Linked DNA regions of Homo sapiens: regions 1, 2 and 4 are each linked to region 3. Evidence: fine-mapped expression QTL. A gene starts in region 3. Each other region holds a variant in brackets. All regions are shown on one strand. Distances are from middle to middle. Region 1 overlaps CRYBG2 (crystallin beta-gamma domain containing 2). Region 2 holds the start of CRYBG2 (crystallin beta-gamma domain containing 2). Region 3 holds the start of SH3BGRL3 (SH3 domain binding glutamate rich protein like 3). Region 4 has its middle 21 kb from the start of CATSPER4.

Region 1 (7,732 bases), 65 kb before region 3:
CACTGCACTCCAGCCTGGGCGACAGAGCGAGACTCTGTCTCAAAAAATAATGATAACTTTTCTTAGCGATAAGATCTCTCTGTCACTCAGGCTGGAGTGCAGTGACACGATCATAGCTCATTGCAGCCTGGGCTCAAGTGATCCTCCCACCTCAGCCTCCAGGGTAGCTAGGGCTACAGGCACACACCACCATGCTGGCTAATTCTTTTAATTTTTTGTAGAGACTTGTAGAGTCTTTTTATGTCACCTAGGCTGGTCTAGAACTGCTGGCCTCAAGCAATCCTCCCACCTCTGCCTCCCAAAGTTCTGGGATTACAGGTGTGAGCCACTGCATCCAGCTCTGAGAGGCTCCATTTAGACCTACACTTGCACACAGACCTGCCCCTGTGCTCTGGAGACCATCAGCAGGTGCTCATGCCCATACACACGTGTGCACACCAGCTAACATTTGGTCACAAATCTCCAAGGTGACAGCAGAAAGTTGATGAGCCAGCAATTTAGGTTATAAGGCGAGCATTTTGGGTGTGGTGGCATGTGCCTGTAGTCCCAATTACTTGGAGAGTTAACGCAGAAGGATCACTTCAGCCCAGGAGTTCAAGGCTACAGTGAGCTACTGCACTTCAACCTGGGCAACAGAGCAAGACTCAGTCTTATAAAATAAATTAAAATAAAAAGATAAAAAGTTAGGCCAGGCACAGTAGTGGCATATATCCATAATCCCAACATTTTGGAAGGCCAAGGTGGGAGGATCACTTCAGCCCAGGAGTTCGAGACCAGCATGGGCAACATAACAAGACCTCAAAGTACAAAATAAAAACTAGCTGGGGCTGGGCACGGTGGCTCACACTTGTAATCCGAGCACTTTGGGAGGCCAAGACGGGTGGATCATGAGGTCAGGAGATCAAGACCATCCTGGCTAACACGGCGAAACCCCGTCTCTACAAAAAATACAAAAAAATTATCTGGGCGTGGTGGAGGGCACCTGTAGTCCCAGCTACTTGGGGAGGCTGAGGCAGGAGAATGGCGTGAACCAGGGATGTGGAGCTTGCAGTGAGCCGAGATCATGCCACTGCACTCCAGCCTAGGTGACAGAGCGAGACTCTGTCTCAAAAAAAATAAATAAATAAAAATAAAAATAAATAAATAAATAAAAACTAGCTGGGTGTGGCGGCGTGTGCCTGTAGTCCCAGCTACTTGGGAGGCTGAGGCAGGAGGATCACTTGAGCCCAGGAGTTCAAGGCTGCAGTGAGCTAAGATCATACCACTGCACTCCAGCCTGGGTAACAGAGTGAGATTCTGTCTCACAAAAAAAAAAAAAAAAAAAAAAAAACGCAGGGGGAGGTTTCATTGTTTCTCTTACTGGACTCTGGCAAGACTCCAGTTTTGTGGCTGAGGACCCTGATGCTTGAACAGAAGAAATGGCCAGTTAGTGAGCAACTAAGGAACCCAGCTCTGCTTGAGGCCAAAGCCCATCTTCCCTGAACAGAGTTAGAACAACGCTTGCCCAGTTTTCGGCTTTCTAGTTTTCAGCTCCTGGGGGACTAGACCTAGGGCTCTGTGGGCAGAGTCCCAGCCCCCCTATAGACCTGTGGGTCAGCTGCATCTTCCCTTCTGCCTTCTTCCTTTTCTCTCCTTCTGGGCTCAGGCCTCAGCTTCACCTTTGAAGGACCCTGACCTAGGAGATCACCTGAAAGTCAGGGAGAGGGATGGATGAGGGGCTCTGATCAACCAAATCAGAGCTGAGACTACCATGCCCATTTCACAGATGAGAAAGCAATGGCCCAAAAAGGCCAAGCGATTTGCCTGAGGTTCCCAGCCTGACTTGGGTAGGGGTGGTTATTCTGCACTTTAGGAAGCCACTCTCACCACCCTCTGACCCTCATCTTTCTTATTCCTCTGCAGGGAGCTGGACCACAGTGGGACAAGGACACCTCCAGACAGGTTGCCAGGGCCCCACATGGAGGAGGCAGGTGGGCCCATGGCCCGGGCCAAGGCCCGAGTGGTAAGTGCCACATTGACATGGCGGCAGCGGCCCCCCACCCAGGAAGAGATCAAACATGGTTTTCACAAGGTGTCCCTGGTGTCAGGGGCCCAGATGGAAGCCCCGCAGAAGGAGATGTTTGAGTTCAGCCGTCGAGAGGAAGTGGAAGTCAATGGCTTTGCAACACAGGAAGAAGAGACTGTGAATTGCCAGGGCCCTCGGGATACAGCTGGCTCCAAGAACTTCCAGAGCCATGGACCCATCTTTTCCAAGAAGTACATACCACCTCCCAAGGAGAAAAGGCCTGAGGGGAGGCTGAAGGAGGCTGTGGACCAGAGTGATGGCAGCCGCCAAGCTCCCAGGACTGAGCCCCCATGTGTGGGAGCTATGGCCAGGACTGAGCTTTTGGTTCCCCTGCCTGGGCCCCGAGAGCCAAGTCCCCACCCAGGTGTAGGTCTCACCAGTGGTAGCTCCCGGAGCCTCGAGGAATACCGAGTGACACGCACTGTGCGGACCACCACAGTGGTGGGAGGTCATGTGGACCGGCGGATGAGCAGCTCTGTGACTGTGAGGCCAGTGTCCTCAGGCGAGGCCCTGCCACGGGGCCGTCAGGTCTCCCGCATGGTGCCGCCAGTGGTGGTGGGCTCCCCACCAGGCTCGCCCAGCCGCAGCCAGGCCGTGAAAGTGCTAAGTAACCTCGTGCCTGCTGGGCACAGCCCCCCTGCCAGTCACCTGCCCAGGCCCACGGCTGGCGGGCCAAGGAGCACAGGTCTGGGCAGCACAGTGGGGGCAGCCTTGAGGCAGCTGCCTGAGACCGGGACAGCAGAGCTTAAAGACAGCTCTGCCCTGGCCTCTACAGGCATCCCAGCCAGTGCTCACCTGCCTAAGAATCAGGATGCCCCTGCAGCCTGTCCGGACAGAGACCAGGGCAGAGCCCCGGATGCCAGGGCCTGTGAGCTCTGGCAGGTGCTGGGAGCCCCCAGTTCCACTGAGCTCCCTCTCCAGACTTCTCAGGGTCAAGCATCAGTCCCCTCCTCTCCCAGACTCGAGACCCATGTCCCCTCTCCTGGCCTAACTCACCCTGCAAAGCAGCCTGTGGTGCCCACTCACCCCGGGGCCCGGCTCACTCCCCTTGTTCTGCCCCCTAAAAAAAAGGACGGGCCCGTGGACCCCCCTGCTGCCACCGTCCTGCCCATGGTGAGGAGCGAGCATGTGACAGTCCCTGGACAACCTCCTGCTCCATCCACTACAAGAAGGAAGGATGTCCCCAGCCCAGGAGGTCTTTCTGCTCCATCGTCCCCAAGGAATAAGTTTGTTCAGAACTCTGAAAATGTCCCTGTCCTCCCCTTTACCCAGAGGGAGGTCGTGAAGGGCCCCGGTGCTCCTGCTGCCTCATCTCCCACCCGGAAGGAGGTGGTGCAGGGGTCCAGTGCTTCTGCTGCCTCGTCCCCCACCTGGAAAGAGGTCGTGAAGGGCCCTGGTGCTCCTGCTGCCTCATCTCCCACCCAGAAGGAGGTGGTGCAGGGGTCCAGTGCTCCTGCTGCCTTGTTCCCCACCTGGAAAGAGGTCGTGAAGGGCCCCGGTGCTCCTGATGCCTCATTTCCCACCTGGAAAGAGGTTGTGAAGGGCCCTGGTGCTCCTGCTGCCTCATCCCCCACCCAGAAGGAGGTGGTGCAGGGGTCTGGTGCTCCTGCTGCCTTGTCCACCACCCCAAAAGAGGTTGTGAAGGGCCCTGGTGCTCCTGCTGCCTCATCGCCCACCCAGAAAGAGGTTGTGAAGGGCCCCTGTGCTCCTGCTGCCTCATCTCCCACCCAGAAGGAGGTGGTGCAGGGGTCTGGTGCTCCTGCTGCCTTGTCCCCCAAGTCAACTGAGGTTGTCCAGGGCCCAAAAGGCAGCAGTAGCATCCAAAAAGAGGCTGTCCAGGGTATTGCAGGCAGCCTTGCCCCGCCCCTCACCAAGGAAGAGACTGTTCAAGGCCCAATTGCTCCTGCCACCTCACTCCCCAAACAGGATAAGGGGGTCCAGGACTCTGAAGGGAGCCCCATCTCATCTCTCACCCAGAAAGAGGTTGTGCAGG[A/G]CCCTGATGCTCTCCCTGCCCCATCTTCCTCAGTGGACAGGGTGTCCCCCAGCCCAGGAGGCACCCCTGCCCCAGTGCCAACAGGAGCAGAGGCCAGCACGGAGTCCCAGCTTGTCTCTGATCCCACCGAGGGCAAGACGTGCACAGAGACATCAAGGGAGGAGGATGAGGTGGCCCTGGCCGCTGACCTGGAGATATTCCTGGATACGCTGCGGAGCATGGAGCCCCCTGAGATCCTCCGCACTCACCGGCTGCCACGAGCCCCTCGCTCCTCCTACCTGTCCATGTACGCCACGCTGCCTGCCATTGAGGAGGACCAGCTGGGGCCATGGGTGCTGGGCCCCGGACCCCAGGAGGTGCCTTCACTGGAAGAGAAAGAGGAGGAGGAGGAGGAGGAACCAGAGAACCCCTATCTGAGTGACGATGAGAAGCTCCAGCGCAGGCAGGAGAAAGCTGGGCCCAGCCCCTCCAGGGACCTCCACCCTGCCAGACCCACCCAGGTCTCCTGCTCTCCTCTGGAGATGATGAAGAAGCATGTAGCAGGAACCAAGGGCCCCCACTCAGAGCTGGGATTGGAACTGCAGGGAGGCAGCAGGCCCACTTCCCGTCTTGGAGGCAGCCTTCTGTTCGGCAGTCTGGTGCCTACCGCCAAGGAGGCCTCCACCCCGGAACCGCTGGGCACAAAACTATCTGCTCTGCTGCCCCATGGGGCACCGGGGCTCAGGAAGGTGCCAGGACAGTTGCCCCTGCTTTGCAGTGAAAGATCATCCCCAACGGAGAAGCTTGCCTGTTCCCTGCCCCTGGAGGGGTGGGTAAGTGAGGCCTCGGGTGGGCAAGGGAGGTGCCTGGCCTCACCTGGGTCAAGGCTTGAGTGGTGTGAAGAGAGTGGTGCTGGGAGTCAGAGTCTGGGGGCAGAGGCTTCTGTCTGAAGTCTGGTTCAGTTGACCTGTGCAAGCCACATCTCTCTGGGCCTCAATCTCCCTATCCCTATCCCTACTGTGGGAGGTTTGTACTGTGGATTCCAAAGGGTGTGGGGGCTCCAAGATCCTGGGAGCTGAGGAAGGCGGGTGATGAGCACCAAGCTCCTGGGACAGGGTGATGAGGCCCTTGGGGGTTGGGAACAAGTGTGAGCATCCTCTATGCGCCAGCTCCTTGCGGGTGGAGGTTAATAGGGAGGATGTGGGATCCTTGGAATGGCGGGTTGTGGGGAGGCAGAAAAGAGGTGACCCCACAGGACTTCTTTATCACCTGCCTCCGTTTCAGAGCCCAGCCTTAAAGACCCAGGGCAAGCTGAACACCAGGCCTGGAAAGGTAGGGTTGTGGGGGCAAGTGGGTGGGGGCAGCAGGATGCAGGGGCCTGGGGTCAGGGCCTGAGGACCCCTTCTGTGCCTTCTCAGGTGATCTTCTTCTCAGAGTCTGGCTGCCAAGGCAGTGGCAGGGAGGTCTGGGGAGACATCGTTGATGCCTCAGGCTGGGCCCCCGTAGCCTCCATAAGGGTAGTTCGAGGCTGGTGAGTGGGGAGTGCCCAGCAAGGCACTTGGCTGTGAACCTGGGGGGATGCAGAGGGGAGTGAGGAGTGACCAGTCCAGCCTGGGAGAAACCCCATCAGCTACCCAGCAGCCCTGGGCACATCCTCCTCCCCATCTGTGATCCTGGAATCTCTGTGCCCACAGCTGGGTGCTGTACGAAGAGCCAGAGTTCCGGGGTCAGAAGCTGGTCCTGCCTGAAGGAGACATGGAACTCAGAACCCCAGGGACAAAGTGGAGTCCCCAAGGCATCGGCTCCCTAAGGAGGGTTGTCTGGGTGAGTGAGTTGGAGGTGGGAGACGGCCTCGAGTGCCTAGAGTTGAAATCCCCGAGGCCAGGAGCAGTGACTCACGCCTGTAATGCCAGCACTTTGGGAAGCCAAGGCAGGTGGATCGGCTGAGGACAGGAGTTGGAGACCAGCCTGGCCAACATGTGAAACCCCGTCTCTACTAAAAATACAAAAATTAGCCGAGTGTGCTGGCATGCGCCTGTAATCCCAGCTTCTCAGGAGGCTGAGGCAGGAGAATTACTTGAACCCGGGAGGCAGAGGTTGCAGTAAGCCTGGATTGCACCACTGCACTCCAATCTGGGCAACAGAGTGAGACTCCGTTTCAAAAGAAATTCCTGGCAGAGATCTTATGGGGTAGTGGGCAGAGGGGCTTAATGTGGACTGGTCCATAGATTCTTGACCGTGGAGCTGACTGGGGAAGAAAGAGATTCTGGGGAATGGGCAGCCTGGCTTGAGGAGTCAGGGCCCAGGCAGAGGCCAAGCTCAGCTTGGGAAAGCAGCCTGGGGAAGTTTGAGTGGATGCTCAAGCAGGAAGGGGACAGAGCAGCAGAGACAAGATGGGAGGGAACGTGGGGGTTACCTGCCCCCCAGGAGCCAGCATGCAGGCCCCCAGTCAGACCCGAGGTGCCAGGCATGTTTGCTCATTCATTTGCTCACAGATGCTCACTCATGTCTAATATGTGCCAGGCACCGGTGCCAGGCAATAGGCAGTGGGGGGAGATCTCCTCTTTGCCCTTCAGGACTTACAGTCAAGCTAGGCTGTGAGGATTGGGTTTGGAGCAGGGACGCCATATAGCCAGACTAGGGATTTATAAACATCCCACTGGCTGCCAGGTGGAAAAAAGAGGGATCCTGGAGGCAGGGAGACCAAGAAGGGCTGTGATTTCCAGCCAGGGGCACCTCTAATTTTTGAGGAAGGGCTGTGTGGTTTGAAAAGTTAACATTATAATTTCAAAGGCCAGGCGCAGTGGCTCACGCTTATAATCCCAGCACTTTGGGAGGCCAAGTTGGGGGATCACCTGAGGTCAGGAGTTCAAGACCAGCCCAGCCAACGTGGTGAAACCCTGTCTCTACTAAAAATACAAAAATTAGCCAGGTTTGATGGTGGGCGCCTATAATCCCAGCTACTCAGGAGGCTGAGGCTGGAAAATCGCTTGAACTCGGGAGGCGGAAGTTGCGGTGAGCTGAGATCATGCCATTGCACTCCAGCCTGGGCAACAAGAGTAAAAAAAAATTATAATTTCATGTGCTGTGCTGTGAAAACAACAACATTGTTTTCACCGCACAGTAATAAACTACTGAAATTAAGCTTGACACGAGAAGGAAGAGCAATGACTGTAAAAGCAGTGTCTATCAGGCATTTTGGTTCTTTTGGTTTGTTTGATTTTTTTATTTTTTTTTGAGACAGAGTCTCGCTCTGTTGCCCAGGCTGGAGTGCAGTGGTATGATCTCGGCTCACAGCAGCCTCCGCCTCCTGGGTTCACGCGATTCTCCTGCCTCAGCCTCCCAAGTAGCTGGGACCACAGGCACCTGCCACTATGCCCGGCTAATTTTTTTTTGTATTTTTAGCAGAGACGGGGTTTCACCGTGTTAGCCAGGATGGTCTCGATCTCCTGACCTCGTGATCCACCCATCTCGGCCTCTCAAAGTGCTGGGATTACAGGCGTGAGCCACTGCGCCCGGCCTGATTTTCGTTTCTAATGAAAGAATGAATAACTGAGTCCAGAGCTGTTGCAATCTTCCTGGTAGGAGATGATGAGCGCTCATTAGGCTTAACTAGGACAGTGGCCCAGGAGGAGGGGATAGTTTACAAAGCCTCTCCAGAGGCTGGACGCGGTGGCTCACGCCTGTAATCCCAA
Region 2 (6,617 bases), 73 kb before region 3:
ATGGTTGGGGCCCGGACTTTCAGGAAATGTGACTTCCTAAAGCTGGGATCTTCTGGGGAGGGATGTAGGGGCAGAGGGGCCTCGCTTCTCTCCATTCTCTTCTTTGGCCTGACCGCCTTCCATCTTTGGTCCCTCTTCCCCACTTCCTGGCATGGCCCCTCAGGGGTGAGGCTGGGCTAGTGGCTTAACCTCCTGCCCCAGTTTCCTCATCTGCAGTAAGGACCTGAGCCCTGAATTGAACAGTGAAAAAGTGTTCTTCCCTTGGAGGAGTGAGGGCAGCCTCCTCTGGAGGTGGCTCAAGCAGCCATGTGTCTCTCTTGGGTCTTGAATACCATGAGTAATTGCCAGTGTTTAATTGCCTACTTGTCATGTGTTGGGCCCTCTGCATGGACTATCTTGTACCATCTGTACCACACTCTCAGGAGGCAGGTACTGTTATTATCACACCCATTTTCCACATGAGGAAACTGAAATACAAACGGTACTGCAGCTATTATAGGAAGCAGCAGGGCGGAGATTCAAGCCCAGGTTGCCTCGATCCAAGCCTCCAGGTTCATCACTGTACTCTTGTCTCTTGAGGTGGTCAGCCCCTGGGGAATGAGAGGCTGCATCTGTTTCATAGATGAGTAAATTAAGGCATTTGGCAGCAAGGATCCCTGCTAGGCGGAATTTTGACCTCCTCTGTTGCCAAGGAAACAGCCCATCTTTTAAAACGGGTCGTTTTGGGGGCAGTGTCCATCTGGGTCTGGGGTGCTGAGCCCTCTCCTCTTATCCCCACAGCCAGGCTGGACCCCAGGGGAAGACAGCAGAAGAGGTCAGGTGTTGTCCCATTTCAGGGGAACCCTCTTCTCTGGCTCCCTTATATCCCAGGTACATCCTCCCAGGTGTTCTGTCTCAAGCTGGGAGGGTACAAGAGAGGTGGCCGCAGTCTCTCTGTTAGCTTGGAATGGGCAGAGGCCATGGGCACTTGAGGCAGGCCTTCCCACCCAGCCCTCAGCCCCAGGGCGGGGAAGCACCTCAGGACTGCAAGGAAGCTGAGATCTCCAGCCTTTGGGGGGCATGGCCGGCCAGGCCCTGGGTGCCTTGTCACCTGGGAGGGAGTGCGGCACCTGAGCGTTGGGAGCCCTCGCTGGCTTGCTGTGTGATCTCAGTCATGTCGCCGTCTTCTTTGGGCCCCACTTTCCTCTTACGTAGAATGGGAAGGGGTGAGTTAAATGCTGAAGGGCCTTCCCAGAGCTCTGTCCCTTTGTCCAGCTCTGGTGGCCTTAGCAGCCTCTCCCTAGGGCAGCTTACCTTGGTGTCAGAGCCCTGTTCAGCTTCCTTGTGACAGGGAAGATACCAGGTACCAGGGGTGCCTGGAGGGCAGGGGGAGCTGTCACTATGCCCCTGCCTCTCTCAGTGTCTATCTCTGTTTTCACCCAGGCCCAAGGCCAGAGCTGCTCAGAATGGGACATCCATGTAGGGGACCATGATGATTTCTGGATTTGGAAGCAACAAGGAATCTCGGGGGGTCCTGCTCAGTCCCTGGGGCGCCTACAGAGGCCAGCGGTGGGCAGCGCCTTCGACCTGGCCAGCCATGCCTCCCTGGGGCCTGAGAGCCTGGCCCTGGAAGTGGCCTCAGGAGAGTCTGCTCGTACCAGGCTCCCCCAATACCCAGGGCCTGCTCCTGGACATGGGGAGCAGGGATCCTCAGGCTGCACCTGTCAGCAGTCTCCACCCACAGCTTCAGAGGTCCCTCTGAGGCCTGAGCCACCCAGCAACCTGGAAGACGCACCCCTGCTGCTCCACCCTGCATCCTTCCCCAGGGCAGAGGGGACAAAGGGCAAGCCCGCCACCCCAGGGACTGCCTTGCCAGAGCCTGCCCAGACCCTACACACGCGTCCCTCTTCCAGGAGGACCCGCTACTACATCACTGTCACCCTGCTGGGGCACAGGCAAGCACCAGGGGAGGAGGGTGAAGAACCGGCCCAACCAGCTCCACACCTCTGCGGCCCTGAGGAATCTGAGGGCTGGTGGGAGCCTCCCCAGGGGCCACGCCCCATCACAGGGTGCCGGACGGCCCCGCCTCAGGAACCCCAGCTGAGAGCCCAATCGCATCAGGGGAGCACGGCCCAGCAGCAGGAGCTCCAGGCTGGCTGGACACCTGGGTCCCCACGCAGACTGTGAGTAGAGGTCGGTCTGTGTGTGGAGATGGGAGGGGAGACTGGCCTGGCTGCCCTGTCTTGAGACTTTGCCTATTCCCTGGGCCTCTCCAGCTCTAGGCCCATTCATTCAGGACCCTGAGCCGACTCTGCCTTCCCTCCCTGCTCCAACCCTGCCTTCCTCTCCCTCCCTTTGCCCACAGGCTACCTCCTGGAACCCACTGCTTCTCACCCCCACTGTCCATCTGAGAAAGGGGAAAGTCTGTCAGGGAGAGGATGGGCAGGAAGGGGGGTTGCCTTCTTCACAGCA[T/C]ACACCACTCCCCAGTTCTGTTCAGGAGGCCACAGACTCAGCCTGGGAATTGGCACCCAGCCTAGGTGCTGGGTGTCCTGAGGCGAGTTGCTTAACCTCTCTGGGCCTTGAGTTGTTGAGAGGATTTGGTAGCTGAAAATGAGGAAGGAGGAGGTGGCTACAGGAATATACTTTGAACTCCAGAGACTGGGGGTGCCAAAATAGCAGGGATGCTTATTAATTACGTCTCAGTGACAGCAATAATTACCCCACCTGGCTCTGAGCTGGAAGCCAAAGGAGTGGGTGTCGAGTTTCCCAAGCCTAGTTTTATTTGTGTTGAAATGACTCTCCTAAATCTGCCTGGGGGGCGCAGAGGTGGAAGGATATGTCCCCCAAAGCTCATCAAGGAGGGATGAACATGGAACCTCCCAGGGATGACCCTGAAGAGGAAATGAGCCTGGGGTGGGGTTTTGAAGGGTGCTTAAGGATGATGGGGTGGCTGTCATTTGCAATTTGTTTTCTAAGCATAATTTTATTTAATCTTCCCAACCATCCCATGAGTAGGGACTGATCCCAACCCCTGTCACCTAATTCTAGGAGGCTCTGAAAGTCACTTGCTCAAAGTCAACTAGAAAGTGAAGGGGCTAGAATCTGAACTTAGGTTTCTATAACTCCAGTGCCTGTGCTCTAACCACTGCTCCATCCTGCCTGGAAGAAACCTCTTTGGCCCTGTGCAGAGAGTGGAGGGTTGAGTGAGGTTGCTGTGTGGGCTCCAGGGTTTTCTAGGCTCCTATGGCGGTGGATTGGGCAGCATTGTAGTAGCAGAGGCAGAATCAGGAATGCTGGGGTCCTCCAAGCAGGGGTCAATGTGACTGCTTCCGTGCCAAGGAAGAGGGAGATGTAGGACCCAGGCTGGCTCTGAGACCTGCTTGGATGCCCCAGAAGTCAGGGGCTGGGGGACAAGGGCTGCAGAGAGAGGGAAGGGGGGTGGAGGAGGCTACCTTGGAGAGGGGGACGGGAAAGAGAAGTAGGGTTAGCTGGGGGGAGGTGGTTTCTATCTGCCACTACCTGGGTATTTTGGGCCCAGGTGGATAATGACAGACTCAGGTGGGAGGCTAGGGCTCACTTAGAGTGGGGGGCAGGTGACCTCCAGAAACATCATCCTTCTATGTCCCCTTCCTGGGAGAAGGTTCTCTGGGCCAAGATTGGCAAATATGGGAGTCGAGAAGAAGTGAGACATAGCTGGGACTGCCAGTGGGAATGTGTAAGATACGTGTGCATCCAAGCGTGTGTGTCCACGTTCAGGGGTAGGTGAATTTCAAGGGGAAGAGAGCTTGGGGCTGTGAATTGACTGTGTGTGTATTGTGAATGTGTGCACGTGTGTGTCACTGTGCCTGTGTTTCTGTCTGTATGTGATTTGTGTGTCTGTTGTGGCTCTGAGTGCCTGTGCGTGTTTGTATTTCTTGGGTGAGTGTATATTTGTGTGTGTGTCCCTGGTTGTGTATGTTTTTATAGGCTTCTAGGTGTATCTTTGTGCCTGTGTGATTGTGGGTCTGTGTCGGTATCTGTCTGTGTGTCTGTGCCTGCGTCTGTGTGACACAGCATGTGTTTGCCTGCATGTGGGCCTGTGGACTGGTTTGGCCTAGTTTGGGGGTGACTCACAGGTAAGTGGGGAGAATCCAGGACTTGTTGGGTTAGACAAGGCTCTTTCCCACACTCCCCCCGCCCCCTCCTCAGCCTCTCCCTTCCCAGCTCCACACGCCTTGTTTGGAGGTCACAGGTCACGCTGCCAACAAATCCACTTCTGGTCTGGGGCCCTGCAGAAGAAAGGGCTCTGGGAATGGCCCCTTCTGCTGGCCCAGGAGAGGCATCCTGGGTCATTGTATTGGGGTATGTCTTCAGAGCAAGGACAAAAGGGGGCATCTATAGGCAGGCACATTCCAGCAGAGTCTGAAGGACATTCTAGCACTCATGACTGTTCAGGGACGGGGCAGGTGAACTGTCGAGTGGTGACCTCCCTGTCCCTGGAGGTATGCAGGCAGAAGCCAATGACCACATGCTTGTGGAATGACTGGCTATCAGGGGTGTTGTCCAGGGGTTGGGCTGGTTGAGAAAGACGTTAAATTCTGATTGGTAGGAGGTCATCGACAATATCTGATCTCATGATCGGCCGCCTCCTTTAACATTGCTCTCCTGTCGCTTTCCTGATGCCTATGGCGCTTTCCAAATGTCCCTGTTTTTATGTCTAATTCCTTGGCCCCTGGCTTCTTAATATGCCACCTTTCATGAGAAAGTTGGCTCTGGTTCTGGTTGAGTCTAGCCAAGGCCTAGCACATCCCTTGATACAATTAGCACTGAATGAGTGAGTAATTGAATGAATGAATGAATGAGTTAGAGCTCAAGCTTTGCCACTTACTATAAGCACCATCAGAGACAAGGAAGCTCGGAGAGTGGAAGGCAGGTGGACAGGGGCTTAGGAGGTGCTCAGCGAGGGCGTCAAACTTCATTTGGGCAGAGTCCCAGCGAGGAGGGCAGGGGTTGCATGAGGAAAAAGGGAGCTCCCTAATGGGGACAGGGGAGTGGGCTGGGGCCTCAGTGAGAGGCTAAAATCCAGAGCCTTTGGTGTCTGGCTGTGTACTGCTCTCAGGAAGCCCTGGCCTGGGAAAATGACCAGGGCTCTACCTAACCCCTCCACCTTCCAGTCCCCCTTGGACCCTGTCCCTGACACTGTCATAGCCACCAGCAGTCCTGGAGTCAGGTCAGGCTTCCCGGGGCTTCAGTCTCTTTCATCTCTGCCCCTCATAAAGCCTGAGTCACTGCTGTGGCCACAGGGAAGGGTCAAAGTTCTGAATTCCACCAGCTTCTCAGGAAGGAGGACAATGGGAAATGGGGGAGGGGAGTGGGGGCAGTGGGTCCATTTCCTGCCCAGAGTCAGGTCTCTTGGGGAGGGGAGGGTACCTCATGGAGAAGGCCCAAAGACTCGGGCTGAACAGGCTGGCCTCTCTGGGGTTCGTGGGGCCTAAGAATAGGATTGCCCTGGTCAGTGTAGCTTGGAAGTCAGGGAGTGGGGGTGGAGACGCCCTCCAGGACTGACATGGCTCCCTGTAAATGTAAACCCCCAAACCAGAGACTCAGTTATAGGATACATATATTAGGGAGTTTGGTATGGTGAGTGAGCACTTAGGGTTGGGGTTCAAGTCTTGTTTCGGTTACTCTGTGACTTTGGACAAGTTTCTTAACCTCTCTGAGCATTTAAAAAATCTCATCTGCAAAATGGGAAGGTATGATCTAATTTATTAATAATTTATTCTTTATGAGGTCTCAAGCTCCTGGGATTCTTCTGAGGCTTCAATGGGACAATGAATCTAAAGCACTTAGCAAGGTGTTTGGCAGAGTCAGCCCTCCCCAAATGGCTGTTTTTGTTGTTGTTGCAACTAGTAAAACAGAGAAATTCACCTGAGAGTTCCTAGGGAGCTTAGTCTATTTTCTGTTGCTTATAATGGAATACCTGAACCTGGAAGCCCAAGGTCAAGGGGGTGCATCTGGTAAGAACCTTGTTGGTGATTCTCTGCAGAGTCCCGAGGGGGCTCAGAGCATCACATGGCAGTGGGGCTGAGGTGCTAGTTCAGGTGTCCCTTCCTCTTCCTATAAAACCACTGGTCCGGTCAGGCACAATGGCTCACACCTGTAATCCCAGCACTGTGGGAGGCGGAGGTGGGCAGATCTCTTAGGCTCAGGAGTTTGAGACCAGACTGGGCAACATAGTGAAACCCCAACTCTACAAAAAATACAAAAATTAGCCAGGCATAGCGGTGCAGGCTTGTAGTCCCAGCTACTCGGTGGGCTGAGGTGGGAGGACTGTTTGGGCCCAGGAGGCAGAGGTTGCAGTAAGCTGAGATTGTGCCACTGCACTCCAGCCTGGGCAACAGAGCAAAACCCTGTCTCAAAAAAAAAAAAAAAAAAAAAAAGCCTCTAGTCCTACTCCCATGATCACTCATTAATCCATTAAACCATTAATCTATTAATCCATGAGTATATTAATCCATTCATGAGGCATAGCCCTCATAACCCAATCACTGCTTAGAGGCCCCACCTCTCAATATTACCACATTGGGGATTAAGTTTCAACATGAGTTTTGGAGGGGACAAATATTCAAGCCATAGCAGAAGCTTAGAAGGTCTTCTTT
Region 3 (7,732 bases):
TTCCCTGAACCCAGGATCTTTGTTGATGCTGTCTGGAATATCCCTGCATCCATTCCATTTCTAAGGACTCCCATTCATCCTTCAGTCACAGCTCAGTTGTCATTTTCCGAGGGAAGCCTTCCCTGACCCCAGGCTGGGGTGGGCTTCCAGCCTGATCATCGTCTGTGTGGGGTTCTGTCTCCATTAGACTGAAACGGGGGGTTACCTGGGGGGAACCATGGGGCTGCCTCCCAGAACCTTCTTCCCCTTCCATTGCCTCTCCTCTGGCCTTGGTTTATACAGAACACCCCCTCCCGCTTTGCTCACTGGTCTCATCTGTCCCTGGTCAAGGAAGTGTCCCTCTAAGGTTTGTGGGGATGACTCAAATGGGGCCTAGGGCTCTGTCCACCCTCCACTGATACCTTCCAGAACTGCTGCCCATTGCCTGCCCGGATCCAGGAGATTGTGGTGGAGACGCCCACCTTGGCCGCTGAGCGAGAGAGGTGAGGGCGGGATGAGGAGGTGAGGGCCTGGGGGCGTTGGGTCACCGCGTGCTGATGGCCTCTGGGCTGTGCAGGAGCCAGGAGTCACCCAACACGCCGGCACCCCCGCTCTCCATGCTGCGCATCAAGTCTGAGAATGGGGAACAGGCCTTCCTACTGATGATGCAGCCTGACAACACCATTGGGGACGTGCGAGCTCTGCTAGCGCAGGCCAGGTGGGTGCAGGGCAGGGCCAGGGCCACAGAGGGGCTCTGGTCCCACTGCCCAGCCTGATCTGCTCTGCCTGGTCCCCAGGGTCATGGATGCCTCTGCCTTTGAGATCTTCAGCACATTCCCGCCCACCCTCTACCAGGACGATACACTCACGCTGCAGGCTGCAGGCCTTGTGCCCAAAGCAGCACTGCTGCTGCGGGCACGCCGAGCCCCGAAGTCCAGCCTGAAATTCAGTCCTGGTCCCTGTCCCGGTCCCGGTCCCGGCCCCAGTCCCGGTCCCGGTCCCGGCCCCAGTCCCGGTCCCGGTCCCGGCCCCAGTCCCTGTCCTGGACCCAGTCCCAGCCCCCAATAAAGCACCCGCCCCCTCAACCCGCTGCTCCGCCAGGCTCTTGGGTGGGCCATCTCGCCAGGCACGTAGGAAAGGCCTGGGACCAGCTGGGCCAGGGAGGGGGCGGTGCCGACCCGCCCCTTGGTAACTCGAGCCCCGGCTGGCGGGCCTGGCTGCTGGGTCTTTGTCTTCTAGGTTCCTCTTTCTCCCAAGAAGGGCTAAGTGGATCCTGTGAAGGGAGGGATGCAGTGGGGGGAAGGAGCTGGCCCCAGCTGGGTTTACATTCTCAGCTGGGACAGCAGAGCCTCACTGTGTATGTGTGCAGCCAGCAGATACCTGTGCACAGGCACAGACCCACCAACTCGTGGGGACACTTCAACACCGCACAAAGCCATTTTGCCACTAGACCCATGCCCCCAAATTAGCAGAACTGCAGCTGGGTACCCACCTCCCATGATACACTCATTCTTAGCCATTGTGCTCCAACACAGGCGCATGGGATGGCCACACTCACTGACAGGCATGGAGATGTGCACTACACACCAAGGCACAAGCATGATATGGACACATGCATGTGAACTGGAGGGTGGCCCACCCAGACATCTCCAGAAACCACTGGTCCATACAGGTATTTGTGTGTCAGACATATCCAAACACATGCACTAACAAACACAGAGGTGACAGTCACAAGAGAACAGCTCAGCCACCCTTCCCACAGAGCAGTCTCAGCACAGTCACAACTACCAACCTTGCCCAGGGCAGGGACCCAGGAGGCCCAGGCCACAACCAACCAGACACAGTGCCAATGGAACAGGACATCATTTAATTGCCTCTAGGGTCCTCCTGGGAGAGGGACTGCGGGGCCTTTGGCAGAGCTCTGGCTGATGGAACCAACAGAGGTGCCCATCAGCCAGTGCCAGGCAGGATGGCGGCCCCAATGCTTGGCTGGGGGCAGCCAGCATTTGGGGCTGTTGCTTAAGACAATTTCTGAGACTAATGGGTAAGGAATGTTGCCTTTAGATGGAGGAGAGGGGACTACATTTAGAGAGGAGGGAGGAGAAGTGGCCTGCATTGGGGGAGGGACTCTAAGGTTAGGTTAGGAATGACAGGGAGTTGGTCAAAAGGTCCTTCATGGCCAGGTGAAGGCTGGGGGGAGTGTGGTGATGGAGTCCAGCAGGGGAACTCTGGACAGGCTTGACTCAAGCCAGCTTCAGGAACTCCTGCAGCGTGTTTTGTTCCACAGCCTCCACGAAGAGCTCATAGTCCTGGAGAAGGGGAGGCGAGGGGTGGTCACCTGAATGCAGGGGGCCCAAGTGCTTTGTGGCAGATATGACCCTGGCTAGAGTCCTCTTCCAACACTCCCCCCACCCCCCCGTCCCCCAGCCCATACCCCACAGTACTGGTCCCCGTTGACAATCTGGGGTGGGGTGGCCTTGGGGTTGCCTGCCAAGGCTCGCATCTCATCCCTCAGGGCGTTGTCCTGGGAGATGTCCACTAGCTGGTATTGGATGCGCTTCCCATCCAGGATTCGGGTCACCTCGCTCTGCTGGGACTTGATCTGGGGACAGAGGGTGGGTAGGGGTTAGTGGATAGGCTGGAGGATTTATGGGGGAAATGCTGGGCAGGGTGAGAGAGGCTGTGACCAGGAGCTTTTGTCCCCCCATTCCCCTCCACACTAGGGGAGGGTTCTGGCCTCTAGGAGTTGGGAGGATGAGTCAGGCTTGAGGTGGTGCAGGATGAAGAGAGGGATTATCAGCCACGGGGGAGGGGGTCAGAGTGAAGGGAAGTGGGATCAGGCTCAGGGTGGGGAGGGGAGGGGAGGGCAGGCTGCGGTCGTGGTCAGGGTCAGCCCGGTAGTGGGAGTGCAGAGAATGGGTGTGGGGTTGATGGGGGATGGGCACGGGAAGTTCATGCCGCGGCTGCAAAGGACCCAGGATGCCCGATGAAGACATTCAGGATGGGGCCTCGGGACCGGGTCCGGGAGACCGTGCCCAGCACCTCGCCGACGCACTCCCCCCACCCCGCCCCCGTCCTGGGGGTGGGTCCCGGGCGCTAGGGTCCAAAGCACCGGGATACAGCCCTGCGCTTTCCCCCAGCGCCAGTCCGGGCGCGCACTTACTTCGCGGGAGCCGGTGACCGACGTGCTGTAGACGCGCAGGCCGCTCATGCTGGGGGTAGACAGACGGGCCGGCGGGCAGAGGGCGGCGGTAGCGGCAGCTGCACTGCCGGGAGACGACGCCGCCGCCGTGCTCGGGAGCGGTTTCCTTCCTGCTCCGCCCGCCAAGTCATCGCGCTCGGGACCAATGGGCGGCGCGGGCAGGCGGGGTGGGACCTGCGCGACACCGCCCCGCACGCCAGAGGCCCCTTCCCTTCCCCCTCGGTTACCAGGCGCGCAACGGACCCGTCCCACGCAGGGCGCCCCTTCTGCGGCTGCCCTGATCGTCCTTTTCGGCCCTTCCCTGATCTGGAGCTCAGTGTGAGACTGGGGAGGGGCCTGGGTGGCAGGACAGGCCCGGGAGAGGGTCTGGCAGAAGCCTCCCTCTCCAGCCGCACACAGGTTTGGTGCATCCAACTCCCCAGCCACGAGAGCCGCTCTCTCCAGGAGGAGGTGCTCTAATAGCACAGGGAAGCTTGGGGCTTTGGAAGGTTTGAGCTGCTTTCAGACCCAAAGTTCTCTAAGAACCTTGCTCCAAGGGATCCCTCGCTCCACCACCCAACACGCACCACTAACCCTAGGGGATAGGAAGCATAGGACAGCAGGAAGAGCCCATGCTTAGAGATTTTCCCCCAAGTTCCTCTCCACTCAGGTGGGAAGGTTTAGACAAGGAAGGGTGATAGCAGGACGCAGAGGCCACACCCTCAAGGAACCAGATGGAGACCAAGGCTGACAGCTGGAAAGCGTGGCGGTAGAGGATGATGTCAGGACTCGAGAGCCTAGGCTCAAGCTGACCCTTAAGATCCACCCCAGGTCTTGGGGTGGTCCAAGCTCAACCCCAGCTCCATGCTGCAGATGGCATTCCCAAACTGCTACTACTCCCAGCAAGAATTCAGCGGTTGAGGGGGCAGACTCCAGCAACGAGCCCAACTTTGGAGACCTAGCTGTCTGGCACTCAACATCATGCTTCTCAGATGTCCCCCTGGTCCAGGGCTCAGGCAGGTTAACAGCCCAGAAAGACAACCCTTGCTCTGGTAAAGCCACTTCCTCACAGCAACCCAGAGGCTGCCAACTTCCTGAGAGGACTGCTGAAACTTTCCAGTGACAAACTTCTGTTATGACTCAGGGAAGGTTTGCCCAAGAGAAAGTGAGTGGGAAGAGATCTGGTTCTATAGAACGACAGAGGAGCAGAGGTGGCAGAGATAGATAGGGACATGAGGCTGGCTGGACCTGCCAAAGGTTCCTCCACGCTGCTGCCTGGGGGACCTGGCTGAACACCCAGGTGTTTGGCTCTAACAAGCCAAAGTGAGGGGTAGAATAGCGTGGTGGTGGTGATGGAAGGGTATGGAAAACTGAGGAGTCTGTTAAGATACTTTATTTTATAATCAAAATACGCAATACAAACAAATGGACATAACAAAGATTCATATAAATAACTGGTTATAAACTTTATGAGGAAAAATACCCGTCAGCATGGTGGCTGGGCTCCCAATGCACAGGGTGGAGACCAACCAGGCGGCTCTGCCTTTAAGCAGCAGGAGCCCAGAGGCTGAAGGGCTGGCTGGGTGGGGCTGCTCTGAATGGAAGGGATAAGTCACTCCATAAATAAAACACAAACTTGTAAAAACACTTAAGAAAGAGCCTCATTCAGGCCCAGGCATGAGGTCCAAGATGCTGCCAACAGCCCAAAGCTTAGCAAAAATCTTGTAGTGGCTGACTGGCCCACACGTGGCCCCTGCCTGGCCTGGCTCCAGATCTAGAGGAGGCACGGCTGGCCCAACAACCAGATACTAACAAGTGTGAGATGCTCCCTAAACCAGGAGGCAAGAAAAACCAGAGGGCAAAGGTCCCTCACTAAAGCCCCAGAGAAACAACCCAGGAAACACTAAAAGCTGTACTTTAAAGCTGACTTGTACTGGGTACTCTGAACTTTCAAGGAGGCCAGAGCAGGAAAGGGAAAGGAATAACCCCCACCACCCCCAACACAAGAGAGGCACAAATTAGAGGGCTGGGCACAGGCTGTAGCCCTGGGTGAGGGGGTAAGCAGCTTGACAGTTGCTCTGTGGTCTCTGGGATATAATTCTGCCCAAGGCTAGAACCACAGAGAAGAGTTTGCACTCTTAAGTCCAGGAAGGGGACTACCTGGAAGGCCTGAGAACAAAGGAGAAAGTTTAGCACACTAAACACATGGCCAGGACCCTAGGGACACAAGGCAGCTGGAGAGTGGGATCTCTTGTTAAATGGCATGGTAGGCAGATTAGAGTCCTGGCTATAATCCCTAGGGCCCCAATCCTAGTAGTTACGTGCTAACCAACACATTACCCTGAGGCTTCTGGGAGAACAAGAGCCCTGAGGAAGAAGCAGTAAGACCAGGCATGAGAAAACCCAGAAAGCCAGCTCAGTTCCCAAGAAGGCTGGCACATGGGGCCTGAGAATTCTTAAATGGCCATTGTCACTGGTACTTGCTCAGCCTTTCCAGGCCCCTCTGATGAGCTCTCTAATCAGCAGGACCAAGGTGTGAAGTGGGAATGAACATGGATCCATCCCATTGGATGGAGAAGAAAGGTGGACAGCCTGTTCGTCTCTCATGTCAGCCTAGGGCTGGGAACAGTTTGTGAGGACTTATCTGTTGTACCTGCCAAAAGTTAATTAGTAACTCACCGTCTAGAGTGAATTAACAGGACAAACGTAATCCAACATGCCAGTGTGGGTAGGACACAGTTCCCTAATCAGCCCTTGGCCCCCAGATGCAGGCTCTCCCCTCCCCTCTGAGACCTCTCTGGGAATAGCAGACAAGAGAATGTCAGGGCAGAAACCTGCTGGACTAGGCTCTCAGCAGCCCAGCTCCTCCCTGGGGGAATCCCCCAGAATTCCTCACTGTGTGACACAGTTTTCTCCCATGTCCTGGGCATATCTGTCTGACATGGTGGTCCTTAAGTCCTCAATGTCACGACGCAGCTGTTGAACCTCTTCTAGTTTCCTCTTGATCACATCTGGCTTCTGCAAATCTAGCTGAGTCTCTGGGTGCTGTGCTGCTGGGGAGAAGAGCATTTCAAGAGAATGTTAGTTATGAGACATTTTCATGTGGAGGGTGCAGTATGGATAGGCAGTATCTTGAACCCACAGTCTTGGGACATGCACTTTAAAAAAAGCATCTGGGGACAGTGGGTTAATTTGCTGCTGAAGGTCCACTTTTAGTTTGTCCTGCATGCAAGTACCCCATAGCTTGTTTCCAAAAACAGATTTGTGAACACCTACTTTGTGAAACAAATAAATGTCCAGAGGGCAGTGGCCAGGACTATGTACTCTGTCTACATATTACCACAAGAATATGGGAAAGCAGGATGGGGGAGAGAAGAGAAAGAAGGACCCTCCTTCCTGGGCCCCAGACTGGTCTGAGGACTCACAGTGAATGCCCAGGAGCAGGGAGAGATTGGGGTCATGGCCCTGGGCCCTCTGGGTCACAATGCTACAGACAGCCTGCAGATCTTGAAGGCAACTGGCCAACTCCTGGTGCAGCTCAAGTGCCAGCTGGGCCGTGTCTGGTGAAGGTGGAGACCCTGGTTGGGCCTGGCGCAGGTGTTCCTGGAGTGTCAGATTCTTCTCAATCAAGTCCTGGTTTTGCACTGAAAGCTGAGCAGACAGATGGGTAAGCACATTAACTCAGGCCCAGGGAGAGGAAGAGTATCTGTGCATGAGTGTGTGGGTGTGGAAGGGATGGGTGAGTCATAGGCAGTGTCCCTCCTTCCCCAACCCTACCCCTGCCAACAGGCTTTTAGCACTTCTCCCACTATCAGTATCAGGCCTGGTTCTTCCTGTGGGTAGGTTGGGCCCACAGGGCTCTAGCACTGGAGAGGAAGCCAACCCTCAACTGGTTCTGAATCATCAGCATCCAAGTTTCTGTTCAAGAACCAGAGAAGATGCTCCCGCCCCTAGGAACTCTATCTCAAGCCAGTCCCTCAGCCAACTCTGTTAGCCAGGCTATTAGAGAAGGCTTAATGTGAACCGTGAAATCTGAGGAGACACTGGTTTCAATCTCTCCCTGCCACCCTGACAAAAGTGGCCACCAGCCAGCCTGATCACAGTGTGTCAGAGGAATAAAGAGAGTAAGAAAGACAATATGACAGCTAGTAGCCACTAGGTGGGGGGCTGGAGAAGCTGGAACCTGGAGGATCCAGCCCTGGAACAAGTCCTGCCTTTTCAAACTCTCACCTCAGTGGAGTCAGACTTTATTACAAAAACCATCTATTCATGTATGTCTGTCTGTTTCCCTCTCTTCCTGACAGCTTAATCCACTTTCCTTCCCTTCCTACCTTGATTGTATTTTTATAGAGTCTGAATAGAGTCCGTCCTTCAGTCCCAGGCCCTCCACCCACACTGGGCCATGTGACAATCCTAACTCAAGGAGGTTCCTTCCTAGGCACTAGGCCAGTCAGTGAACTTGGTTGCCCCCTGCTGACAGCTCTGTTTAGTGCATGAAGGCCACCAAATCCTCAGTCTTCTTGAACTCTCCACTCCCCAACCCCAGAAACCTGTGGCTTCAAGACAAAGGAA
Region 4 (7,732 bases), 68 kb after region 3:
GGGCGACAAAGCAAGACTCTGTCTAAAAAAAAACAAGGACTCTCCCTCACAGCCATAGTTGTTGCCCTGTGGGACCCTGGCCCCTGGCCTTAGCTGATCCACTCAGAATCTCTTTCCCAGAAATTAGGAACTGGGCCTCAAAGGAGGCAGCATAAAGCTTGAGAGGTGAGGTGGTCGTCTTCTGTCATGTGGGCTGGGAGGTGGGAGGGACAGAGTGGGTGCAGGTGTGGAATGGGAGGAGCAAGACTGAGTGGAGAGAGAAGCAGCCCCCTGGTTCCCACTACATTCCCAGATCCAGTTCCAGTCCTTGGAGAACCTGGCTGGAGCCTGCCCTTGGCCTCCGTGAGACACTGTTTTTCTTTAGCCCACTTGGTTTCTGTTACTTGTCTGGCAAGATTATTTTTTGAGATATTAATTTGTTAAGTTCTCTGTGATTTTCCTCCTATTCCAATCTGGAAGCCAGGCCTTGTAGTTTTTTCGAGGGGCCTAGACTGCTTGGAGTCAATGACTCTTTCAGTCTGGAGAAGTCTAAACTCATGGAAGAGAGCCCTGAGGGAAGGATGGGGGTGCTTGAGAACCTGGAGGGAGGGGCTTCAGAGTCTGCAGGTCCAGTTTCATGAGCCAACAAAGTTTGTTTTATTTTGTTTCATGTTTTCTTTTTCTTTTCTTTTTTTTTTTTTTTTTTTTTTTGGAGATGGATCTCACTCTGTCGCCCAAGCTGGAGTGTAATCTTGGCTCACTGCAATATCCACCTCCTGGGCTCAAGTGATCCTCCCACCTCAGCCTCCTGAGTAGCTGGGACTACAGGCATGCCACCATGCCTGGCTAATTTTTGTATTTTTTGTAGAGATGGGGTTTCGCCATGTTACTCAGGCTGGTCTCAAATTCCTGGACTCAAGCAATCCACCCACCTTGGCCTCCCAAAGTGCTGGGATTACAGGCGTGAGACACTGCGCCTGGCCTCATGTTTTCCTTTTTTTTTTTTTTTTTTTTTTTTTTTGAGTAAGGGTCTCTCTCTGTCACCCAGGCTGAAATGCAGTGGCATACTCTTGGCTCACTACAGCCTGAAAGTCCTAGGCTCAAGTGATCCTCCCACCTGCTTCCAAGTAGTTGGGACTACAGGTGCATGCCATCACACTGGCTCATTTCAATATTTTTGGTAGAGACAGGGTCTCCCTATGTTGGCTAGGCTCATGTTTTCAATTTTTAAAAAACATTTATGTATTTTACTCAAGCCAATTAGAGTTGGGTTTCTGCTACTTGCAACACAAAGTATCCTAACTGATACATGCCAAATACCAGTGCTATTTGAGTGATGAATGAGAAGCTAATACTTAACCTTCCCTTCTTTTTGCATCTGCTCTCTTCATACTTTCTATTGAATTTTGAATGAACTGCTTAAAAGTTAGTAATTTAAAAGTAAAGTTATGGCCGGGCGCGGTGGCTCACGCTTGTAATCCCAGTACTTTGGGAGGCCGAGGCAGGTGGATCACGAGGTCAGGAGATCGACACCACGGTGAAACCCCGTCTCTACTAAAAATACAAAAAATTAGCCGGGAGTGGTGGTGGGCGCCTGTAGTCCCAGCTACTCAGAGAGGCTGAGGCAGGAGAATGGCGTGAACCCGGGAGGCAGAGCTTGCAGTGAGCCGAGATTGCACCACTGCACTCCAGCCAGGGCGACAGAGCAAGACTCCGTCTTAAAAAAAAAAAAAAAAAAAAAAAAAAAAGTTAACTTTGGGAGCCCAAGGCGGGAGGATCGCTTGCATCCAGGCATTGAAGAGCAGGCTAGGCAACATGGGGAGATTCCCTTTCTACCAAAAAAAAAAAAAAAAAAATTAAAATTAGCCAGGCATGGTGGCATGTGCCTATAGTCCCATTTACTCAGAAGGCTGAAGTGGCAGGATCGCTTGAGCCCCTGAGGTCGAGACTGCAGTGAGCTGTGATTGTGCCACTGCTCTCCAGCCTGGGCCACAGAGCAAGACCCTGTCTCAAAAAAAAAAAAAAAAAAAAAAAATGGAAAACTGGCTGGACACAGTGGCTCATGCCTGTAATCCCAGCACTTTGGAAGGCCGAGGCAGAAGGATTGCTTAAGGCCAGGAATTTGACACCAGCCTGGGCAATAGCAAGAGCCTTGTCCCTACAAAAAAGAAAAAGAAAAGTAGCCAGGTGTAGTCCCCGCTACTGGAGAGGCTGAGGCAGGAGGACCACTTGAGCCCAGTAGTTTGAGGCTGCAGTGAGCTATAATTATGCCACTATACTCCAGTCTAAGTGACAGAGTGAGATCCTGTCCTAAAAATAATAAAATAATAATAATAATGGTAAAAAGTAAAACATAATGGAAATACCAATGCAAAACACTTCTGGACTTGTTTTATTACTTTGAATTTAAATATAATTTTCTTTCTTTTTTTAAAGTTTACTGTTTCTATTTTGGCAGGCATATTTGGTCAGAGGGATGAGCTGTAACTTAAGAGCAGATGCTGCTAGGTGCAGTGGTTCACGCCTATAATCCTAGCATTTTAGGAGCCTGAGGTGGCAGGATCACTTGAACCCAGGACTTCAAGACCATCCTGAGCAACATAGTGAGACCCCATCTCTACGAAAAATTTTAAAAATTAGCTGGGTGTGGTGGTGTGCACCTGTAGTTGCAGCTACTCAAGTGGCTGAGGTGAGATGATTGCTTCAACCCAGCAGGTCCAAGCTGCAGTGATCTGTGATCACGCCACTGCACCCCAGCCTGGGCAACAGAGCAAGACCCTGTCTCAAAAAAACAAAACAAAAAAAAGAGCAGATGCTTTATATTCATCAATGCGTATTGTTGAGAGGAGGGGGAGTTTGTCAGTCACGTAACATTCTGTTGTTGCAGTCAATTGCAGTCAATCGTATATTGTGATACAAAGTGCCAAATCATATTAATAATAGCTGGTAGGTAAATGCAGTCGTATACCTAGCGAAAGAAAATGAGACACAGTTCAAACCCAGTTTATCTGGCAGAGCCCATGTTCTTCTTACCCACAGGGGGAAAGAAATAACACAAAAGGAAAAGCTGTCTCATTCTCAATGTGTAAAAACTCGATGATGTACGTCATATTTTCTGTGGAGGGGCACATGCAGCATGTACAAGTTGGCACATAACCCTGGTTTTACTGAGAGTCTGCTGAGGTAGTGACAACCCTCTAATGGGCCAGCATCTGCCTCAAGGCTTGACTAAAAACCACCTGGATTGGACTTCTACCTTGCACAGCCCTGCTTAGCTCCCCTGCTCTGCAATAGATATCCCAAGGTGCTGCATGAACATTCCTTAGAATGAGGATTCTAGGAACAAATAATCTTAGGAAATATATGCTATAATCTGCTGCTAGGAAGTCACAGGAAACAGTGGAATATTAAAGGCTCTGAAAAGTTCTTCAGTCGAGACACAATTTTGTTGAATCCAGCATTTCCCAAATGTATATGACAATAGAACTTTTTTTTTTAAGTGAAATGTCTATTGCAATCACATAGCACTGGTGTCCCAGGAAATACATTTTGGAAAACAGTGACCCATAAGTTAAGCACTGCCGGTTTTGCATGTAACAAAAGCTTCATCCCAAGGCAGGACTACCCAATAGACCAAGGCAGGAATGCCAAAGAAATATTTTTTAAAGGAATTAGATTTTTTTAAAAAAAGACACAATAGTCATTTTAGGAAAAGCAGAATTTTGTTAAGTATATTTTATTATATTTTATTGAAAATAGAGACAGGGGTCTGGCGCAGTGGCTCACGCCTGTAATGCCAGCACTTTGGGAGGCTGAGGCGGATGGATCACAAGGTCAAGAGATTGAGACCATCCTGGCCAATATGGTGAAACCCCCTCTCTACTAAAAATACAAAAATTATCTAGGCATGGTGGCACGTGCCTGTAATCCCAGCTACTTGGGAGGCTGAGGCAGGAGAATCGCTTGAACCAGGGAGTCGGAGGTTGCAGTGAGCCAAGATTGCACCACTGCACTCCAGCCTGGCGACAGAATGACACTCCGTCTCAAAAAAAAAAAAAAAAAAAAAGGTAGAGATGGGATCCCACTAGGTTGCCCAGGCTGATCTTGAGCTCCCACCCTCAAGTGATCCTCCCATCTCAGCCTCCCAAAGTGCTGGGATTACGGGCATGAGTCACTGC[G/A]CCCAGACTTGTTAAATTTAAATGCTTGGGGGAGGAGAGGTTAGAATTATTTCAACCGTGAAGAACATATGTTTGGGGGATATTATTATCTTTTTGCTGTCTTAGACCCAGCTTCAGGCCTGCAGAGGATGGATCTGGGAGTTTGTGGCACTGCCTGTCGGAGGCCCTGTGAACTCAGCCTTTCTGTAATATCTGCCACACTGACTTGCCCCAACAGTCAGACTTTTGCCTTAGTTTTTCCACCTGGCCTTCCAGGCCTCCGCTGGAACTACAGTTCTTGTCTTTGGTGCAGCTCCTTCCCCCAGGAAAGTTTCATCTCTGGACAGTAGCTAGAGTCCTGGGGGCTGGAGCTGAAAAATTGTGCACTCTATCCCATATGCCCAGCTGCCTGTCTTCCCACCAGAAATCACCTCTACCCAGGTGGACTCAGAAGATGCCAACGTCTTACCAAACTTCACTGGCCCTCTCATACCCTTTGGACCCTTTGAGACTTCACAGAATTATGGTGTCCACTCTGGCCCCCACCTCTTCTTTGTTTTACTCACATGAGTTCCTCAGACTTACCCGCGTGGAAGTAGTAGCTGTCATTGCACATACAAACTCCCCTGCTACCTGCATACTCATCCAAAGCACAGGCTCCAACTCTGGGACCACTACTCTGGGTGTGTTTAGGGGAGGTTTGACTGGCCCCAGTTACAGCAGAGGATTTTGTTGTTTCCGAGGACCTGGGGAGAAGGCCTGTGGAATGAGCAGCTGTCATCTCATGTGACTGGATTATAGCAGTGGCAACACTGGAGGTTGATTCTGCCAGATGGGAAGGTGTCTGTGAGACTGTGTTATGATGTGTTCCAGACAACTTGCTTATCATGGAGGTGGTTGTTGGGGATAAGGATGCAGCTGTAGTTTTTCCTTCCTGAGTCTCAGATGTAGTTGTTCCAAGAAGAGTTGTCCCGAGAGTGGTTGTGTTTAGCAAGGTAGTGTGCATAACTTCGCTGGCTGTCATGGGTGAAGATTCTTTTATGCCAGTGGTTTTGTTCAGTGCTGTTGGGGATGTAGTTATAGCTGACTTCCCAGAGACAGTGGTTGCCATGGACCCGGATGATTGAACATGATGGCCTGGCGTGCTCTTTGCTGTTGGGGATGTAGTTATAGCTGACTTCCCAGAGACAGTGGTTGCCATGGACCCAGATGATTGAACATCACTGCCTGGTGTGTTCAGTGCTGTTGGGGATGTGATTGTGTCTGATTCCTGAAAGCCAATGGACACTGATGATTGTGTCCCATTGACTGTGGTGTTTGATGCTGATGGAGTTATAATTGGAGTTTCCTGATTCTGTTTTGGGGTCTCAACTGAAGAGGCCGTGCTGGATAAAGCTGTGGTTCTTGATATCCCTCCCTGGTCCTTCAATGTAGAAGTCATGATGGAATTTGGCAGCAGTGTACCCTTGGAGGTTGTGCTGATAGTTGTGTTTAATTTCTCTTCCTGAGTTTTTTGTATTGAAGTTGTCTGCTCAGTGGACCCATTAGAGCTGCTGTTTGTGGAGAGGTTGGAGGAGCAGCTGGTGTTGTATGCTTCTGGGACTCAGATGTTGATGTCTTGTCAGTTGTTGGTGAACTGTTAAGTACAGCTGGAGAGACATTGTCTTTCCCTTTGTTAAACAGAGTTGAAGTTGTAGATGAACACAATATAATTTCCTCAGGTGCAGAGTCTTCTGTGGAGTGTATTGTTTTTGACACAACTCCCCAGATTGTAACACTGCCTGTGAAAAAACAAATAAACAGAAGGTAATCTAGACTGGGTATTGTGACTCATGCCTATAATCCCAGCACTTTGGGAGACCGAGATGGGAGGAATACTTGAGGGCAGGAGTTTGAGACCAGCCTGCTCAACATAGCGAGACCCCATCTAAGTAGAGAAAAATAAAAATTAAAAAAAGAGGCCGGGCATGGTAGCTCATGCCTGTAATCCCAGCACTTTGGGAGGCTGAGGTGGGCAGATCATGAGGTCAGGAGTTCGAGATCAGCCGGGCCAACATGGTGAAACCCCATATCTACTGAAAAAAAAAAAAATTAGCCAGGTGTGGTGTCCCATGCCTGTAGTCCCAGCTACTTGGGAGGCTAAGTCAGGAGAATCACTTGAACCTGGGAGGCAGAGGTTGCAGTGAGCTGAGATCATGCCACCGTGCTCCAGCCTGGGTGACAGAGAGAAACTCCATCTCAAAATAAATAAATAGATAAATAAATAATAAAAGAGAAAGCAATCTACCTGTTCCTTCCACCAAACCAGAGTTATTTTCAGATGTTATGACTTGTCAAATATTCTTACTGGGAGACTCCCTAAAAATAATATCAGGTCGTGCACAGTGGCTCACGCCTATAATCTCAGCACTTTGGGAGGCTGAGGCGGGAGGATTGATTAAGCCCGGGAATCTAAGGTTATAGCAAGCTCTGATTGTGCCACTGCACTCCAGCCTGGATGACGAAGTGAGACCCTATCTCTAAAATAAAATTATATATATAAAATATATATACATATAAATATATATTATATATACATATAAATATATATTATATATACATATATAAATATATATTATATATAATGTAGTGGGTGTTGATTTACATACATATGTAAATCTTACCAGCTCACATTTATGTGCCAGCTCTGTGCCAATAGATTTCAACAGATGTATACCAGGGAGAGAGAATTTTACTTGTGCAGGTAACTATGTCTCATTCCACTCAATGGCTACTCTAGACAGTGCAAGTCAGTAAAAGACAGAAATCTGTTATCTCAATTGGTGTTTGATTTCTTGATGCCTTGTTTGATATTAGTTTCCTACTGCATTGAATATGATTCTAGTATTTAAAGATACGATTTTTTTCTTTTTTGAGACAGAATCTCGCTCTGTCACCCAGGCTGGAGTGCAATGGTGTAATCTCAGCTCACTGCAACCTCAGCTTCCCGGGTTCAAGCCATTTTCTTGCCTCAGACTCCTGAGCAGCTGGGACTACAGACATGAGCCACCATGCCTGGCTAATTTTTGTATTTTTAGTAGAGACAGGGTTTTACCATGTTGCCCAGGCTGGTCTCAAACTCCTGACCTCAAGTGATCTGCTTGTCTCAGCCTCCCAAAGTGCTGGGATTACAGGGATGAGCCACTGTGCCCGGCCTAAAGATATGAATTTTTTGAACAATATGACCCCTAACTGCAAGCCGAGTGTTTCATTGAGTGTCATAGCAGTCAAGGATCATTTTGATATTGTTCAAGTGTCACCCTGCCCAGGTAAGGTGCTGCTCCAATGCACAGGCACATTAAATCCTTACAACCAACCTGTAGAAAAGGACTATTATTTCCATTTATCAAATGAAGAAACTGAGGATCAGACAGGTGAAGACATCTGTCCAAGGTCACACAGCCAGGAAGTGGTGCCACTGCATTTGAAACAAAGTCCATCAGACACCAGAACCCAATGCCTTCCCTACCACACTGCACTGCCTTACAAAAACACAGCTTTATTCTCATGGTTGAGCCAGCTGCTCTCTCTAGAAAGGCCCAAATCAATTATGTTGG

What was found. PIP is the estimated chance that this variant, and not a neighbour inherited with it, causes the effect. A credible set is the group of variants that fine-mapping cannot tell apart.
Region 1: its variant is the best candidate, but not a certain one, in a credible set for the expression of SH3BGRL3 in whole blood (TOPMed, PIP 0.79).
Region 2: its variant is the best candidate, but not a certain one, in a credible set for the expression of SH3BGRL3 in whole blood (TOPMed, PIP 0.57).
Region 4: its variant is the best candidate, but not a certain one, in a credible set for the expression of SH3BGRL3 in whole blood (TOPMed, PIP 0.50).

What each region holds. Positions count from the first base shown.
Region 1 is chr1:26,340,883-26,348,614 of GRCh38, reverse strand. CRYBG2 (crystallin beta-gamma domain containing 2) reads left to right here. Exons shown (of 20, transcript NM_001039775.4): 2 at 1,903-4,870; 3 at 5,322-5,369; 4 at 5,456-5,568; 5 at 5,732-5,861. The coding sequence starts at 1,958. Among named protein-coding and RNA genes, the nearest start is that of CRYBG2, 9.4 kb to the left of the region's middle. RefSeq lists an enhancer at 1,535-2,288. The variant A/G (reference allele first, on the strand shown) is at 4,059.
Region 2 is chr1:26,349,591-26,356,207 of GRCh38, reverse strand. It overlaps CRYBG2 (crystallin beta-gamma domain containing 2), which reads left to right and starts at 2,078. Exons shown (of 20, transcript NM_001039775.4): 1 at 2,078-2,172. RefSeq lists a silencer at 4,579-4,777 and an enhancer at 5,993-6,617. The variant T/C (reference allele first, on the strand shown) is at 2,452.
Region 3 is chr1:26,275,614-26,283,345 of GRCh38, reverse strand. It overlaps SH3BGRL3 (SH3 domain binding glutamate rich protein like 3), which reads right to left and starts at 3,260. Exons shown (of 3, transcript NM_031286.4): 1 at 3,143-3,260; 2 at 2,414-2,581; 3 at 1,824-2,288. The coding sequence starts at 3,190. The coding sequence ends at 2,223. CEP85 (centrosomal protein 85) reads right to left here. Exons shown (of 14, transcript NM_001319944.2): 13 at 6,586-6,811; 14 at 4,538-6,210. The coding sequence ends at 6,053. UBXN11 (UBX domain protein 11) reads left to right here. Exons shown (of 15, transcript NM_001389556.1): 13 at 409-482; 14 at 557-697; 15 at 777-1,064. The coding sequence ends at 1,047. RefSeq lists enhancers at 1,965-2,851, 2,852-3,739, 6,290-7,489 and silencers at 2,979-3,428, 2,905-3,476.
Region 4 is chr1:26,207,900-26,215,631 of GRCh38, reverse strand. No RefSeq gene overlaps it. Among named protein-coding and RNA genes, the nearest start is that of CATSPER4, 21 kb to the right of the region's middle. The variant G/A (reference allele first, on the strand shown) is at 4,158.